Linked DNA regions of Homo sapiens: region 1 is linked to region 2. Evidence: fine-mapped expression QTL. Tissue or cell type: tibial artery. Region 2 holds a variant in brackets; the other region holds the start of a gene. All regions are shown on one strand. Distances are between the middles of the regions.

Region 1 (8,000 bases), 29 kb before region 2:
GCCTGACTCTGAGGGATGCCACTGGCCAGACACTGAGTTCTGTTATTAGACCTCTGTCTGCCCACGTAACCTCCTCCCAGGCTGATGAGAAAGCAGGAGGGGAAGGTTTCAGAGAATAAGAAGCACCTTCCTGTAATTATTGATTAACCAGGGGCTGGCTCCAGGGCCAGAGGCCAGGGAGGGGTCTGCAGGTCAGTTCAGCCCTACCCCACTGCACTTCTCAGAATAATCGTTGTCCCTAAAGATGGATTCACATGGTGAATAGAGAATAAAGTGCATAGTTTTAAACTCTCACAGTTGAGAATGGCCCCAACACATCAGCCCAGACCTGGAGGTTGGGGGCAGGGTGGGAATTTAAAAAGACCACTTTGAGTCAGGGTATCTGGGATCTTGACCAGCTCTGTCACCACTGCCTGTGCCATCTTTACCAAGCAACTTCTCTTCTTGAGGCCTAGCTCCTTATCTAAAAAGTGAGGGAGGAGAAGCAATGATGACCAAGTCCCTTTTGGTTTCAAAATAACCTTACATATTTATTCTGTGGGTCTCCTGTAGACTTCTGCTTTAGGCAAACTTTAAGATGCTTCATCGCTTCAGGTGAAAGGTGAGAGAGGACTTGCTTGCTGGGAGTCAGCCTAGGGCTTCCCCCTTTACAGGAGACGGAGGGTCCCTGCAGGAACACCGGTGAAGGAGAGGGTGTCCCACACACCAGGTTCTGCTCTCTGCTCTCCCCTCACAGACTACAGAACACCAAGTGCCTGCTGCCATGGTCTGCAGTGTCTTTGGTCCTGGGTGGGCCGACCGAGCCCTTGCTCAGTGAGAGTCCTGGGCCAGGAGCCAGACCTCACCCTGGAGCTGCCAGTTACTAGTAGTGCAGTTTTGAACAAGCCACTTTACCTCTGTTAGCCTCAGTCTACTCATCTGAAAATTGGGGGCAATGTCTCCCAGCATTCAGGGTTGAGAATTTCAGAGGAGATTGTGTATGTAAAGCAATTTGTAAGCAGCACAGTTATCTGAGAAGTGTTCTGGCTCAGACAACTAAAGTCTTCATTGTTCCTTCTGTTGTCTGGGTGAGGGCAGGTCAGGCTGAATTGTGCAGGTATGCTTTCTTCTCTTTCTTTTTTCTTTTTCTTTTCTTTTTTTTGAGAGGGAGTTTCGTTCTTCTTGCCCAGGCTGGAGTGCAGTGGTGCCATCTCGGTTCACTGCAACCTCCGCCTCCTGGGTTCAAGTGATTCTCCTGCCTCAGCCTCCTGAGTAGCTGGGACTACCGGTACGCACCACCATGCCCGGCTAATTTTTGTATTTTTAGTAGAGATGTGGTTTTACCATGTTGGTCAGGCTGGTCTCGAACTCCTGACCTCATGATCTGCCCACCTTGGCCTCCCAAAGTGCTGGAATTACAGGTGTGAGGCACCACGTCCGGCCTGGCCAGGATTAAATTTTTTCATGTGAACCACAACACTAAAACTTTGTATATTGCTGCGCTTATCTTACAAATCAGGAAATAGGGGTTCAGAGAAGTTAAATAGCTTGCTTAAGTCACACAGCCAGCAAGTGGTAAAGCTGGGATCTGCATGACTACAGAGCACACAGGCTCCCCACCAGTAGATTAGAGAGGGGGAGGTCTGCTTTGGTGCAGAGACAGGTGGGATCTGTGATGCCCGTTCTTGGTTTCAACATTCTTTTAAACTCTCCTATCTGAGCCTAGGACTTTCTGCAGCCTTCCTGTTTTAGGCTGGCAGCTCACAGTCCCTCTCTGGTTATTTTCAGGTCTGTGTGTGCCACAGAGAGGAAGGGGGCAACCACAGTGGGAACCGCTTTCCAGCCCTGCTGCAACCCCTTTTGAAATAGCAGGCGAGAGGGCTGGTGGCCTCCACTGTGCTCTTCTGTTCCTGTCTGTGGGCATGGCTAAAGCAAACAAGCTCACCCACACCAGCTCCCATCGTGCGGTGGATCAGTGCATGTGCTTGGTTCTGTCTGGCACTGCTGATGGGTGGTTCCTACAGAAAGATCCAGATGCACGGGGTCTGAGGACTGTTTCAGAAGCTCTGTCCGTCCATGCCTGGCCCTGTCCACTTGGGAGTTCCATTAGGCCATGCCTGTTCCAGCTGTCCCAGGATCTTTGATCTGGGTTAGGATTGGCCTGAAACCAAAGGTAGAAAAACACATTCTAATGAGCAGTTGCTGGTCTAGAAGCTTCTCAGCCTAAACTTTATTTCAGCATTTTTCTTTCCCTCCAGATTCAGCTATGAGGCCATCCTATCAGCTTTAGGCTCTGTGGGGGTCCTTGAGAGAGTTCCCCTCCAAGGGACGGACAGATGGTCCCCTTCAAGGTCCTTGTGGTTGCTCAAAAGCCAGGTGCTTGTTTCTTTCTTTTTTTCTCTCCTTCCTTTCCTTCCTTCCCCTCTATCCCTCCTTCCCTCCCTCCCTCCCTCCTCCCTTCCTTTTCTTTCTTTCTTTTCTTTTTTTTTTTTTCTTTCCAGACAGGGTCTCACTGTCATCCAGGCTGGAGTAGCAGCCCCCAATCACGGCTCACTGTACCCTGGATCTCCCGGACTCAAGCAATTTTCCCACCTCAGCTTCCCTAGTAGCTGGGACTATAGGTGTGTACCACCACACCCAGCTAATTTTTAAATTTTTTTATAGAAATGGGGGTCTCACTTTGTTACACAGGCTGGTCTAGAATTCCTGGACTGAAGCAATCCACCCACCCGGCTCTCCCAAAGTGTTGGGGTTACAGGCGTGAGCCACTGCCCCTGGTGTTAGTGTCTGTCTGTCAAGTCAGGAGGGCAGCCATGAACGTTCTGATGTCTACTGAGCACGTGTGGCCCAGACCGTGTGTCAGGTGTTTAGGTGCCATCCACAGAACCTTCCTAATAACCCTGGGCAGCATAGGCTTTCTTATCTCTGACAGATGAGGAAATGGAGACTCAGATTCTGAACCGAAGTCACAGACACAGTAGATGGTAGGTCTAAATGGGGACCCAGGTCTATCTGACTGCAAAGTCCAAACCGTTTCCTTGCCTCTGCTGCAGCCTGCGAGGAGCAGCTGGGCAGAAAGACTGTGCCTTTACGGTGGTGAGTCTTCCGATGCCCAAGCCTCACCCCAGACCGATGAAATCAGAATCTCTGGAGACCCGACCCAGACATTGGTGGGTTTTAGGGCTCCTGGCTGATTCCAGTGGGCAACCGGGCTACCAAGCACTGTTTTACCCTAAGGGTAAGAGGAACATCGCCTCCTCGAGGGCTCTCCAGGTGTGCCTTTCACAGCGTAATCCCGTTCACGAAACCAAAAATCAAAACTAGGCCACTGCCCACTGGTGGCTGATACGCCCTTTTCTCATCAACAGAACCGGGAGGAAGGGCTCTGGTGGGGCTGGCGGTCCCCTGTTCTCCCCGCTCAGGTGCGGCGCTGTGGCAGGAAGCCACCCCCTCGGTCGGCCGGTGCGCGGGGCTGTTGCGCCATCCGCTCCGGCTTTCGTAACCGCACCCTGGGACGGCCCAGAGACGCTCCAGCGCGAGTTCCTCAAATGTTTTCCTGCGTTGCCAGGACCGTCCGCCGCTCTGAGTCATGTGCGAGTGGGAAGTCGCACTGACACTGAGCCGGGCCAGAGGGAGAGGAGCCGAGCGCGGCGCGGGGCCGAGGGACTCGCAGTGTGTGTAGAGAGCCGGGCTCCTGCGGATGGGGGCTGCCCCCGGGGCCTGAGCCCGCCTGCCCGCCCACCGCCCCGCCCCGCCCCTGCCACCCCTGCCGCCCGGTTCCCATTAGCCTGTCCGCCTCTGCGGGACCATGGAGTGGTAGCCGAGGAGGAAGCATGCTGGCCGTCGGCTGCGCGCTGCTGGCTGCCCTGCTGGCCGCGCCGGGAGCGGCGCTGGCCCCAAGGCGCTGCCCTGCGCAGGGTAAGGGCTTCGGGCGCACCTGGAGGGCTGGGGCAGCTAGCGGCTGGGGGAAACCGCCTTGGTCACCGCAGTCTGTGGGAGGCTGGAGGGAGGAAAGGAGGTGCGACGGATCCCCTTTTCTGTGGCTGCCTTGAGGCCCCGCGGGTACCTAGCTGTGTGGTCGCGGGTAGTGGCTCTTGCGCCCCCTGCTGCGCTTGCTCCCTTGGTCCGGAGCGCTCCCCGGAATGCCCGGTGAAGCTGTGCGGGAACCCTGCGGTCTGTGTACAGGACTGTGTCCTTGCAAACCTGACTCTCGAGCTTCCTTCCCAGTGCCCCCAGGAGCCTTTACACAACCGCGTCCCAGGTTACTCTAAGGGGAGACTGCCCGAGAGGGCGCGCCCCAGCGGGGTGATGTACCCGCCTGGGGAGTCCTTTGTACCAGCGCCCCTCTTCTCCCTCTGCATTGGGGGTCCACCTCGCCTGGTCCTCCCCCCACCCCCGCGGGTGCATGTGTGGATGACAGTGCCCTGACTATGAAGGGACTGACATCACGGGCGCTGAGTCACGGATCTTCCCGCTGCACGGAGTCACTTTGGCAGCCACCAACTCTGGGAAGCCAAGTGCCCCAGTCCTGGGAATTGAGTCGGGAGGCTGGCAAGGGAGTGAGACCTCCTGGGGCTGGCACGTGCTGGACTCCCCTCTAGAAAAGAGAAGGACCCGTGAGGGAGAGGGCAGAGGCACTTACTGCTCCCGTTGACTGTAATCTGCCCCTGGCAAACCAGGCTTTTCTTGGGCTCTGGCCGCATGCCCAGCTGCGTGTCTAGTCTCTCTTCTGGAAGAGTTGGGCAACTGGCTCTCCAGAGGTTTATTTTAGGGTCCCAGTGCTTCTTTGAGGACACAGCAGAAAACTAAGGGGCAGCTGACAGGCTTCTGGAACAGCTGACAGGCTGGGGAGGCTGAAGGCTAAGACTTTCAACCACTAGATCACACTGAATTCCAGTCCTAGGTGAACACTGATCTCTCCCTTTGAGGAGGTGACTTTCTGCAACTAGAGGCTGAGCTGGAGTGTCTGAGGCTCTCTTTGCTTTTTGGATGGTTGTGGTCCTTATGATTGGAAGAAAAAAAGAAGGGATTCCATTTTCAATACACATTTATAACTCCTGCCAGTAACAGACACTGTTGATTGGGGCACCCATTCAATGTTTTCTAATCCTCCACTGTATCTACATATAACTTTGTTTGAAAGAGGAGACTGAGGTTCAGGGAGGTTGGGATGGCGGGATGGCAGGTTGTCAGGCCCCGGTGATGGAGGCCAACCCCTCCCGTGGCTCTGTGCTCCAGTGTGGTAGATGTCTAAGACTCTCAAATATAGAACTAGATCAGCAGGCAGAGCTGGGGGCATTGGGGCAAGCTGAGAGTCACTCTTGTCTGGCTGAGTGCTGGGACAGAAAAGGCTGAGGGAGGGAAGTGGAGGCCCAGGCTTGCCCATGGTGGTGTTAGAGGGATGCAAGACAGGTTCCAGGGCTCGGATGGCCTCAGGAGCAAGCAGGGCTCCCTTGGCTGCCTCTGCTGCTGTCACGCCAGCCCAAGGCTCCTGCCCCAGGGAGGTTACTGTTACTGCTGTAGTTGCCACCACCTGTTGCTCCTGAGTGGATGCTAGGCCCTTCCAGGGCAGCCAGTTACAGTCAGTTTTCCATTTCCCTGGTGCTCAGGAAGGATTAGGAGAGGTGGTCTCATGGCCTGAACAGCCCATGAAAGGCAGAACTGAGAGACTGGGGAGGAAGTGAAAGTCCTCCCAGCTCAGAAGGAAAATGCAGAGAAGTAGAAATACCCAGCCCCTCTCCCACACCCACACAGACTCAGCCCACAAACTGGAGAGTAAAAATAAAGAAATCGTACAGGAAGCATGGAGCAAATGACTGTGAGATGTTTCGCTTTAGAGAAGTGAGGAGCAGAGGGGGAGCAGAGGCTGGAGTTGGCTGAGAGGGGAAATCCGCAGGTACAGCCTGCGGGGCTCTTAGAGCCCAGAGGTTTGTTTTCCTCGGGATCAGCTGCCGCCCACACACCCTGGAGCTGCCAGGACTTCTCAGGTGTACTCGTTGTCTAAGGGCCTGGACTAGCTGGGACTTAGGCTTCTGCCGGTTCCAACACTCTGGTGCTGGAAGGCTGGACTTGGGTGACTCAAGTTCCCTCTTCCTACTGCAATGCAAGAAAATACACAAAAGAAGTATGTATACCTTTAAGTATCTCAAAGAGCTATCTCAGCTTCTGAATTTCCTTCTAGGGCACCTCTTCCTGCCCCCATTACCCACACACGTGCCTAGCCTCACCCTAAATCAGTATTTCTCAAAAGCTTAGTTCTGAGCCTAGCATCAGATCTGGTGTGTGTGCTGGGTGGGAGGGCTTTGGTAAACATGATGATTTTTGAACCCTAACCCAGATTTATTAAATAAGAACACCTAGGAGTGAGGCCTGGGGCATGTCCTTTTAAACAAACTGCCCCTTGTGATTCTTAGGCACTGTCAGGTTTGAGGACGGCTGCCTAAATGGTGTCATTGAGGAACTGAATGAAGGCCCTCCCGCTTCGGGCTCTCTGTTGCCAGAAATCTCTCCTTGCTTTGGCTTGCTGCTTGTTTATTCATTGCAGCAAACATTTCTTGAGTCGGTGTAGAGCCTGTGAGGCCTGTGTAGGATCAGCTATGCAGACTCCACCCTAAAAGGAGCCTGAAAATGGTCATGGGTAAATCCTGAGAAGGGCTGAGAAACCCCAGACTCTGACCGGGCCACTGGGTACCAACTACCCGTGAACAGATTGTCTGGCTTGGGGTAGGGGGTGGTTAGAGAGAGGAAGTTCCTCTGACTGAGGACCAAGATCCCAAGGCAGCAGGCACACTGATCCTGACCCTGACCCTCATCTCCAGCCCTCAGCAGCCAGGGTAAACAAATACTCCCCTCACTGGGTATTTGTAGATTACACAAAGTAACCTAGGTGCTGACTGCTGAAAATATACACTCCCTTCCCCCGTCTCCTGAATCCTGGTCCCACCAGGCCTGGAAGCCACAGACCCAGCAAGCAAAAGAGTTTCCAGTCAATGAATCTAGTCTGGATTGAAGCTGTGCTCTGTAATACGGTAGCCACTAGCCACGTGTACCTATTTAAATTTAAATTATGCCAGCGCAGTGACTCACGCCTGTAATCCCAGTACTTTGGGAGGCTGAGGCAGGAGGATCTCTTGAGCTCAGGAGTTGGAGACCAGCCTGGGCAACAGGGTGAGATGCCGTCTCTACAAAAAGATTTAAAAAATTAGCTGGGCACAGTGACATGAGCCTGTAGTCCCTGCTACTGAGAAGGCTGAGGTGGGAGAATCACTTGAGTCCAGTCTGCATGGAGCCATGTTTGCACTACCGAATTCCAGTCTGGGCGACAGGAGACCCTGTCTCCAAAAAATTAATTTAAATGAAATCAAATAAAAACTTAGTTTCTTAGTTGCACTAGTCACATTTTAAGTGCTCAACACTCACATTGCTAGTGGCTACTGTACTGAACAGTGCAGATACAGATCTCTTCCATCATCGTGGAAAGCCCTACTGGACGGTGCTGGGCTAGAGTGTTAACCAGTTTCTTCCAGAGGTTTTCTGTTCTCTTTTCCTTTATCCCCCTCTGCCTTCTGCTCTCCTCCACCTGAACACAGCTCATTTTGCATAGGTGATGGCTAAGGTCTTCAAGCCAGGCACATCTCTGCCCTGCACTGCCAAGTAAAAATGATAACACCTTGGGCAAGTGATTTAACTTCTTTGACAGCCAGTGTTCTAGAAAATAGAAATAATTGTATTACCTCGAAGGGTGGTTATGAAGATGAGATGAGCTAAGTAAGGTATTAAATAGAGTGTTTACAGAAGTCCCTAACACACAGCAAGTGCTTAAATAAGTGTAGGTGATCATTCATTCACTCCAAAAATATATTTTTGGAGTGAACACCTCCTACTCTGTTCCAGGCACTATTCTAAGAGCTGGAGATACACCATGAATAAAAGAGACAAAAACCCCAGGCTTAGTTGAGTTTCATTCTAGTGTGGGAGACTATTAACAGGATGTAAATTAAGTATGTGGTATGCTAGCGACT
Region 2 (8,000 bases):
GCCTGCTGACACCTGCAATGCTTTCCTTTCAGTTCCCCCCGAGGAGCCCCAGCTCTCCTGCTTCCGGAAGAGCCCCCTCAGCAATGTTGTTTGTGAGTGGGGTCCTCGGAGCACCCCATCCCTGACGACAAAGGCTGTGCTCTTGGTGAGGAAGTTGTAAGTATCTTGGGCTGAGCTATGTGCATGTTGGCTCCCTCCTTCCCGAGGCCCCCCAGAGAGGGGCTGGTTCAGGTGATTTCAAAACATTATCATTAGGAATTAATTCCTTCAGGCTGAGGAAGAGGAGATGAGAGGGAACTGAGATTTACATTTGACTGCCCCCCCTGAGCTAGGCACTGTGCTTGTGCTTGGAACCTTGTCCTATTCACTTGACCTTGGTTATCACAACAGCTATGGGAAGTGGGCTTTATTTTTCTCACTTAACAGATGGAGAGACTGAGGCCCAGAGACTGATTAACAGGTTTGGTTCACTTAGCTAGTAAGTGGCTCTGCTGGGAATTCAATCCCAGTCTGTCTGATTTCATTCAAAGTCCGAAGATTATGGGCGTTGCTCTGAAAAACATGCAAATATCCCTGGGAGGGGGTGTAGCACAGCCAGACCATTATCAGTGTCTGGGCCCTTGTGGGCGTATCAGGCTATTTCCATGATAAAGACACGAGAGAGAAAGCGGTGATGGGCGGGGGAGAGGGAGCTTGGGGCCGTGGGGGGAGAAGTCACGCCTGCCTGGGGGCTCTGCATCATCACCGGAAGACGGCTTAACGTGGGAAGACCTGGGATGGGTTCAGGCATGGATGTAGAGGAGGTGGAAGATGCTGAAAACAAATCTGCCTCTGCAGTTTTGCTGGTCTCCATCCCAGAGCCACAGTCTCCCTTAGTCCAGAGGTTTACAATTGAGTTTGAGCTGTCAGTCATCAGAATATAGGGCAAGGAGGTCGCATTCCAAGACCCCTAGTGGATGCCTGAAATCGCAAATGGTGCTGAACCCTATATATAGTATGTTTTTCTATAGATATGTACTTATGATAGTTTAATTTATAAATTAGGTGCAGTAAGAGGTTAGCAATAACTAAAAATAGCATAGAACAGTGATAACAATATACTGTAATAACAGTTATGTGAATGTGGTCTCTCTGTTTCTCAAAATGTCTTATTACTGTACTCACCCTTCTTGTGATGATATGAGGTTGTGAAATGCCTGCATGATGGGATGAAGTGAGGTGAATGATGTAGGCATTGTGACTCAGTGTTAGGCTACTAGGGCTTTCTGACCATGTGTTAGAAGGAGGATCAGCTGTTTTGGGTGACTCTGGGTCACCGAGCCATGATGATGGCGGTGGATGTCAGGACGAGTGATGGGTAGCATGCACAGCGCAGGAATGCTGAACAAAGTGATGATTCATGTCCTGGGCGGGACGGTGTGAAATCTCGTCACACTTCTCAGAACAGTGGGCACTTTAAAATTTCTGAAGTGATTATTTATGGAATTTCCCATTTAATATTTTTGGACCGCAGTTGACCACAGGTAGCCGAAATCTTGGAAAGCAAAACCTCAGATAAGGCAGGACTACTGTATCAGAAAGCCAGAGCAGTGACTTCAATAGGGTGGTTCAGCTCCCACTTGGGTCTGTTTCCATAGAGTTACTGGGCTGCCTGGCAGTCATGTTTTTGTTCTGTCCTCTATGATGAAAAGTGCGGATTACCATCTGTGAATGATGCAGCTGCCATTAGCACTGTCAGCTCATGCCCCAAGCCTGGATAGCTTCACAGCCCAGCAAAGGATACACCTTGTTTGTACCTCAAAGGCTTGTACCATAGATAGGATTAGCCAGGATAGAGACTGTGGCTGGCAGCTTCCCAGGCCAGCCTGTGGAAAGCTCTGTCATTTCTGACACTTCAACTGAAATACTTTTTTTTTTTTTTTTTTGAGATGGAGTTTCGCTCTGTCGCCCAGGCTGGAGTGCAGTGGTGGGATCTCGGCTCACTGCAATCTCCGCCTCCCGGGCTCAAGCGATTCTCCTGCCTCAGCCTCCTGAGTAGCTGGGATTACAGGCGCACACCACCACGCCTGGCTAATCTTTGTATTTTTAGTAGAGATGAGGTTTCACCATGTTAGCGGGGCTGGTCTCGAACTTCTGACCTAGGGTGATCCGCCTGTCTCGGCCTCCCAAAGTGCTGGGATTACAGGCGTGAGCCACCGCGCCCGGCTTGACTGGAATACTTTCCATGTTGACAGCGGGAGTGGGAGAGAGTACAGTGCTTGTCCTCCCGAGCAGCCTCGTGCCTTTGCTTCCATCTGCTTTGAAGAGTCAGCATGACCACTGGGCGCCTTTGAAGTGAGGAAAGAGCAGGGGAAGTGGCTTCGAGAGCCTCAGGGGCCCCAGCCCCCACTGAGGCCCCACCCAGACCTCAGGCCACTGCAGGGCCTGGAAGAGACAGGCCCCTGGAAAGGGATTACTGGGAGCTCTGCTTTTTCTCTTGTGTGTCTGCTTTCACACCCTTGCCCAACTGCAGCACTGCTCCCTCCTTCTTCCACAGGCAGGGGTGAGCTCAGCCTCTGCCTTGGACCAGGCGCAGTGCTGGGGCAGTGGGAGGAAGCGGGCCAACAAGACTGAGCCCCGGCCCTCTGACCCCACCTGGGCACACACGTAAAGCAGTCGGTGACCCTGCCTTCGTGGCTGGGTGGAAGCCTGGGTGGTGTTGGGGGAAGGAGGAAAGGGGCTTTAACTCAGCCTGGAAAGGTTGGGTTTGTCCCATGTGCTGGATTCAGCAGGAGCCCAGGGTTCGAACCCAAGTCAGAGGTGGCAGACTCGTCACCCCAGCTGGAGGGTGAGTGGTTGACGTGGCCTCACATGCCCACATGTGTCATAAGAGGGTGAAGCCTCAGGTTTCCAGGCCAGGTGGGATGGTGGCTGACTCACCTCGAATGTCTTCAGTTACCCAGAATTCTTTTCTGGACTCACCTGCCAGAACCCCTCTAGCACTTTTTGTGTCTCTGGAGTGGCATTTCTGCTGGGTGTCTAGTCATCTGAGGACAGATCTTTTTTGTTAGTGCCTTGAAGGCAGGGTGGGGCCTCTCTTGATTCATTTCTATATCCCCTACAGTGCCAAGAGCACAGGCCCAGCGGGAGACCAGAGCTGGCCAGCCGACCATTGCCTGAGTGACTAGCTGAGCCCTCCAGCCTAGCTCCCCTCACCCCTCGTGCCAGGCGCTAGGCTACATGTTTATATATATTTGTAAATCCAGCTAGTTTCCTCATCTCTAGATTTTACATTTATTGCTCAATTTTTTTTTTTTGAGATGGAGTCTCTGTCGCCCAGGCTGGAGTGCAGTCTCTGTCACTGCAACATCTGCCTCCTGGGTTCAAGTGATTCTTCTGCTTCAGCCTCCTGAGTAACTGGGACTACAGGCATGCGCCACCACGCCAGGCTAATTTTTTATTTTATTTTTTGTATTTTTAGTAGAGACAGGGTTTCACCATATTGGCTAGGCTGGTCTCGAACTCCTGACCTCATGATCTGCCTGCGTTGCCCTCCCAAAGTGCTAGAATTACAGGCGTGAGCCACCGCGCCCGGCCTTATTTCTCAGTCTTAACAGAACCAGCCACGTGTGATTGTTCATGCCTGTAATCCCAGCACTTTGGGAGGCTGAGGCGGGCAGATCACCTGAGGTCAGCAGTTCGAGACCAGCCTGGGCAACATGGTGAAACCCCATCTCTATTAAAAATACAAAAATTTGCTGGGCACGCTCAGGAGGCTGAGGCAGGAGAATCTCTTGAACCTGGGAGGGAGGCGGAGGTTGCAGTGAGCCGAGACTGCGCCACTGCACTCCAGCCTGGGTGACACAGTGAGACTCTATCACAAAAACAAAACAAAACAAAAACTTAACCCCTACTAGGTAAGTAGTATTAATATTCCTATTTTCAAATGAGAAAAGGAGACTTAGAGGCACAGGGCTTATAAGTCTGGAGCTGGGATTCAAACCCCGGGATTCCACTTCCCCCTTCTGTCCCGTCTTGAGTCTGTGCGAAACTGACAGGCAAGCCCTGCCCTTGTTTTGTGTCTAACAGTCAGAACAGTCCGGCCGAAGACTTCCAGGAGCCGTGCCAGTATTCCCAGGAGTCCCAGAAGTTCTCCTGCCAGTTAGCAGTCCCGGAGGGAGACAGCTCTTTCTACATAGTGTCCATGTGCGTCGCCAGTAGTGTCGGGAGCAAGTTCAGCAAAACTCAAACCTTTCAGGGTTGTGGAATCTGTACGTAAGCTCTAACCCCCTCTCCAGCAGTTTCCTTCTCTTTTGATTTAATACTCCTTATCGACTTCTCAGAGTGGCAGGGAAGGGGTGGTTGAGGGGTTTGGTGAGTTGGTGCCTTTTGGGCGTTGCTTGCCGGGAGGTGTGGCAATGATAAAGCAGGCCCTTGTGGAGCTGTGCATGGGGAGTGAACGGGGCTGGGTGGGGCCCTGCTTGCTGGGATCTCAGCCTACATGGGCTTCTCT[A/C]CACTATATTTGGTGCTGCAAAGGAGTCATGCTCACTTTTCCCACAGTGCAGCCTGATCCGCCTGCCAACATCACAGTCACTGCCGTGGCCAGAAACCCCCGCTGGCTCAGTGTCACCTGGCAAGACCCCCACTCCTGGAACTCATCTTTCTACAGACTACGGTTTGAGCTCAGATATCGGGCTGAACGGTCAAAGACATTCACAACATGGATGGTAAATTTATGTTTTACTTCTGGTCAGAGAGGCGCCCCTAGATGCTTAGGCGTAGTAGAAAGGGTACTAGAGGCCAGGCATGGTGGCTCACGCCTGTAATCCCGGCCCTTTGGGAGGCCAAGGTGGGCGAATCACTTGAGGTCAGGAGTTCGAGACCATCCTGGCCAACATGGTGAAATACCGTCTCTACTAAAATTACAAAAAATTAGCTGGGTGTGGTGGCGCACGCCTGTATCCCAGCTATTCGGGGGCTGAGACAGGAGAATCCCTTGAACCTGGGAGGTGGAGGTTGCGGTGAGCAGAGATCACACCACTGCACTCCAGCCTGGGCGACAGAGTTAGACTCCATGTCAAAAAAAAAAAAAAATAGAAAGGGTACTAAAAGGAAAACCATAGGCTCTAGTTCCTGCTTCACAATTGGCTACCTTCGTTGCTTTGGATAAATGTTTTAAGCTTTCTGAGCCTTGGTGGTATATCATTTATTAAATGAAAAGGATAATGCCAGGCCAGTCTCCTCTTCCCGGGCTTGTCTGTGAGGAGAGCAATGTGGGAAGAGATTTGGGCTGTAGACATGTCAAGGGTTGTGGCTTGCAGGATTCTATAGTGCATGGGTGGGGCAGGGACTTTCTGCTTCAGCTTCCGTGGGCCCTGAGGGCAACCCCCTCTCTAGCAGAGCCTCTGGGGTTGTGGGAGCCTCTAGAGGCCTCTGCCAGCTGAAGCACAGGGCTGGCCAAGGCACCAACCCACTGGGGTGCTACCTGCCCAGCACCATCCTGGATACCTCCCCAGAGTCACCGTGCCCCCGCCCTCAGGTCAAGGACCTCCAGCATCACTGTGTCATCCACGACGCCTGGAGCGGCCTGAGGCACGTGGTGCAGCTTCGTGCCCAGGAGGAGTTCGGGCAAGGCGAGTGGAGCGAGTGGAGCCCGGAGGCCATGGGCACGCCTTGGACAGGTACTGCGGTGGGCACTGAGAAAGGAAGGGATGTTTCAACTGTCATTGCATCAGGTATCCATTGCTATGTGACAAGTTGCCTCAAAACTAGTGGCTTAGGCCAGGTGTGGTGGCTCACACCTGTAATCCCAGCACTTTGGGAGGCTGAGGCGGGTGGATTGCCTGAGGTCAGCCTGGCCAACATGGTGAAACCCTGTCTCTACGAAAAATACAAAAAATTAGCTGGACATGGTGGCAGGTGCCTGTAATTCCAGCTACTCAGGAGGCTGAGGCAGGAGAATCTCTTGAACCCAGGAGGCGGAGGTTGCAGTGAGCCGAAATCGCGCCACTGCACTCCAGCCTGGGTGATAAGAACGAAACTCCGTCTCAAAACAAACAACTAGTGGCTTAAAAACGACCATCATTTATCGGCTTGAAATTTCAAAAATACAGTCAGTTAGGCAGCTCTTCTGCTGGTCTTGCCTGAATCAGGAATGCAGCTGCCATCAGATTGGGATGGTCTGAGATGGCCTCAGTCACATGTCTGACGATGGTGCTGGCTGGTGGCCGAGGCCCTGGGTTCTCCCTGTGGCTTCTCATCCTCAGCTGCCAGCCCAGACTCAGGGCAGGCGGGTGGGGATCCCACCACAGCTGGAGGGATGCACTGCAGAGAAGTTAGCCGTATTTAATCTAGGGCTTTTTATTTTTTTCAAATGTTAAAGGTAGTAATAATTGCCATTGGGGATTGTTGAAATTAGAGCATGAAAAATTCCAGAAAGATATGAAGAATAATTATCACCAGTACTTTTACTCCCTAGAGAAAACCAGTGAGAACATGTTAGTATGCTGCTTTCCTTTTTCTAGGTACATGTATGTGTGTGTGTATTTATATATATAAATGTAATATTCCCCATGTTGTCAATTACTTTTGGAAACTTATTATTTAGTAACTGCCTGATTAATACATATATTTTAAAACTCCATGGAAATTTGTTGTTGTTGTTGTTGTTTTGTTTGTTTGTTTTGAGACGGAGTCTCACTCTGTCACCCAGGCTGGAGTGCAGTGGCATGATCTTGGCTCACTGCAAGCTCCGCTTTCCAGGTTCATGCCATTCTCCTGCCTCAGCCTGCCGAGCAGCCGGGACTACAGGCACCTGCCACCACGCCCAGCTAATTTTTTCTATTTTTTAGTAGAGACGGGGTTTCACCGTGTTAGCCAGGATGGTCTCAATCTCCTGACCTTGTGATCCACCCGCCTCAGCCTCCCAAAGTGCTGGGATTATAGGCATGAGTCACTGTGCCCGGTCGGAAATTTTTTTTAACTTAAATTTTTTTTTTTTTGAAGACAGGCTTTCTCCTCGTTGCCCAGGATGGAGTACAGCAGTGCAATCACAGCTCACGGCAACTTCTGCCTCCTGGGTTCAAGCAATCCTCCCGCCTCAGCCTCCTAAGTAGCTGGGACCACAGGCGTGTGCCACAATGCTAATTTTTTAAAAATGTTTTGTAGAGACAGGGTTTCACCATGCTGCCCAGGCTGGTCTCGAACTCCTGGCCTCAAGTGATCCACCAGCCTCAGACTCCCAAAGTGCTGGGATTACTGGTGTGAGCCACTGCACCTGACTAAACTTTAAATTTTTTTTTTTAGACGGAATCTCGCTCTGTTGCCCAGGCTGGAGTGCAGTGGCATGATATTGGCTCACTGCAAGCTCTGCCTCTTGGGTTCACGCTATTCTCCTGCCTCAGCCTCCTGAGTAGCTGGGACTACAGGTGCACACCACCACGCCCGGCTAATTTTTTTTTTTTTTTAGTAGAGACGGGGTTTCACTGTGTTGGCCAGGCTGGTCTTGAACTCCTGACCTCGTGATCCACCCGCCTCGCCCTCCCAAAATGCTGGGATTACAGGTGTGAGCCACCGCGCCTGGCCTAAACTTTTAAAATTTTAATCAAATTAATACATGCACATGGCAAAGAAGTAATAAACAGCTTATAACACTGAGCAGTGGTCCCTTGTCCCATGCCTTCCATTTCTAGTCCTGCTTTCTAAGGAAGCTGCTTGACTCTTTCTGTTTCTAGTTCCTCTGTTGGTGCCCTCCTTAACTCTAAACAACAAGCTTATATGGCTTTTTTTTTTCCCTGATAAAACCACTTGAGACATTATCTATCAACACCCTGCTATGAAAGGTTAGGATTTAGCAGATCTAGAATGCAAGAATCTCCCTGACCACAACCCAGAGAGTGGTCAGCCAGCCTCTGCTTAAATGCTTCCAGAGACAGAGAGCTTACTACCCCTTGCAGCAATCTGTTTTATTGTTCCCAGTGTTTTTGTTGTAGAATGGCTTCATGGCTCACTTTGGGGTCAAA

What was found. PIP is the estimated chance that this variant, and not a neighbour inherited with it, causes the effect.
Region 1: IL6R starts here. The variant in region 2 is fine-mapped to the expression of IL6R in tibial artery (GTEx, PIP 0.96).

Annotation. Positions count from the first base shown.
Region 1 is chr1:154,401,818-154,409,817 of GRCh38, forward strand. IL6R (interleukin 6 receptor) reads left to right here and starts at 3,526. Exons shown (of 10, transcript NM_000565.4): 1 at 3,526-3,897. The coding sequence starts at 3,813. It overlaps IL6R-AS1 (IL6R antisense RNA 1), which reads right to left and starts at 4,747. Exons shown (of 2, transcript NR_147855.1): 1 at 4,622-4,747; 2 at 504-2,140. RefSeq lists silencers at 3,331-3,460, 3,661-3,810 and an enhancer at 4,050-4,656.
Region 2 is chr1:154,430,451-154,438,450 of GRCh38, forward strand. IL6R (interleukin 6 receptor) reads left to right here. Exons shown (of 10, transcript NM_000565.4): 3 at 33-156; 4 at 4,069-4,250; 5 at 4,540-4,706; 6 at 5,519-5,660. Among named protein-coding and RNA genes, the nearest start is that of IL6R-AS1, 28 kb to the left of the region's middle. RefSeq lists enhancers at 1,567-2,400, 2,401-3,232, 3,233-4,066. The variant A/C (reference allele first, on the strand shown) is at 4,493.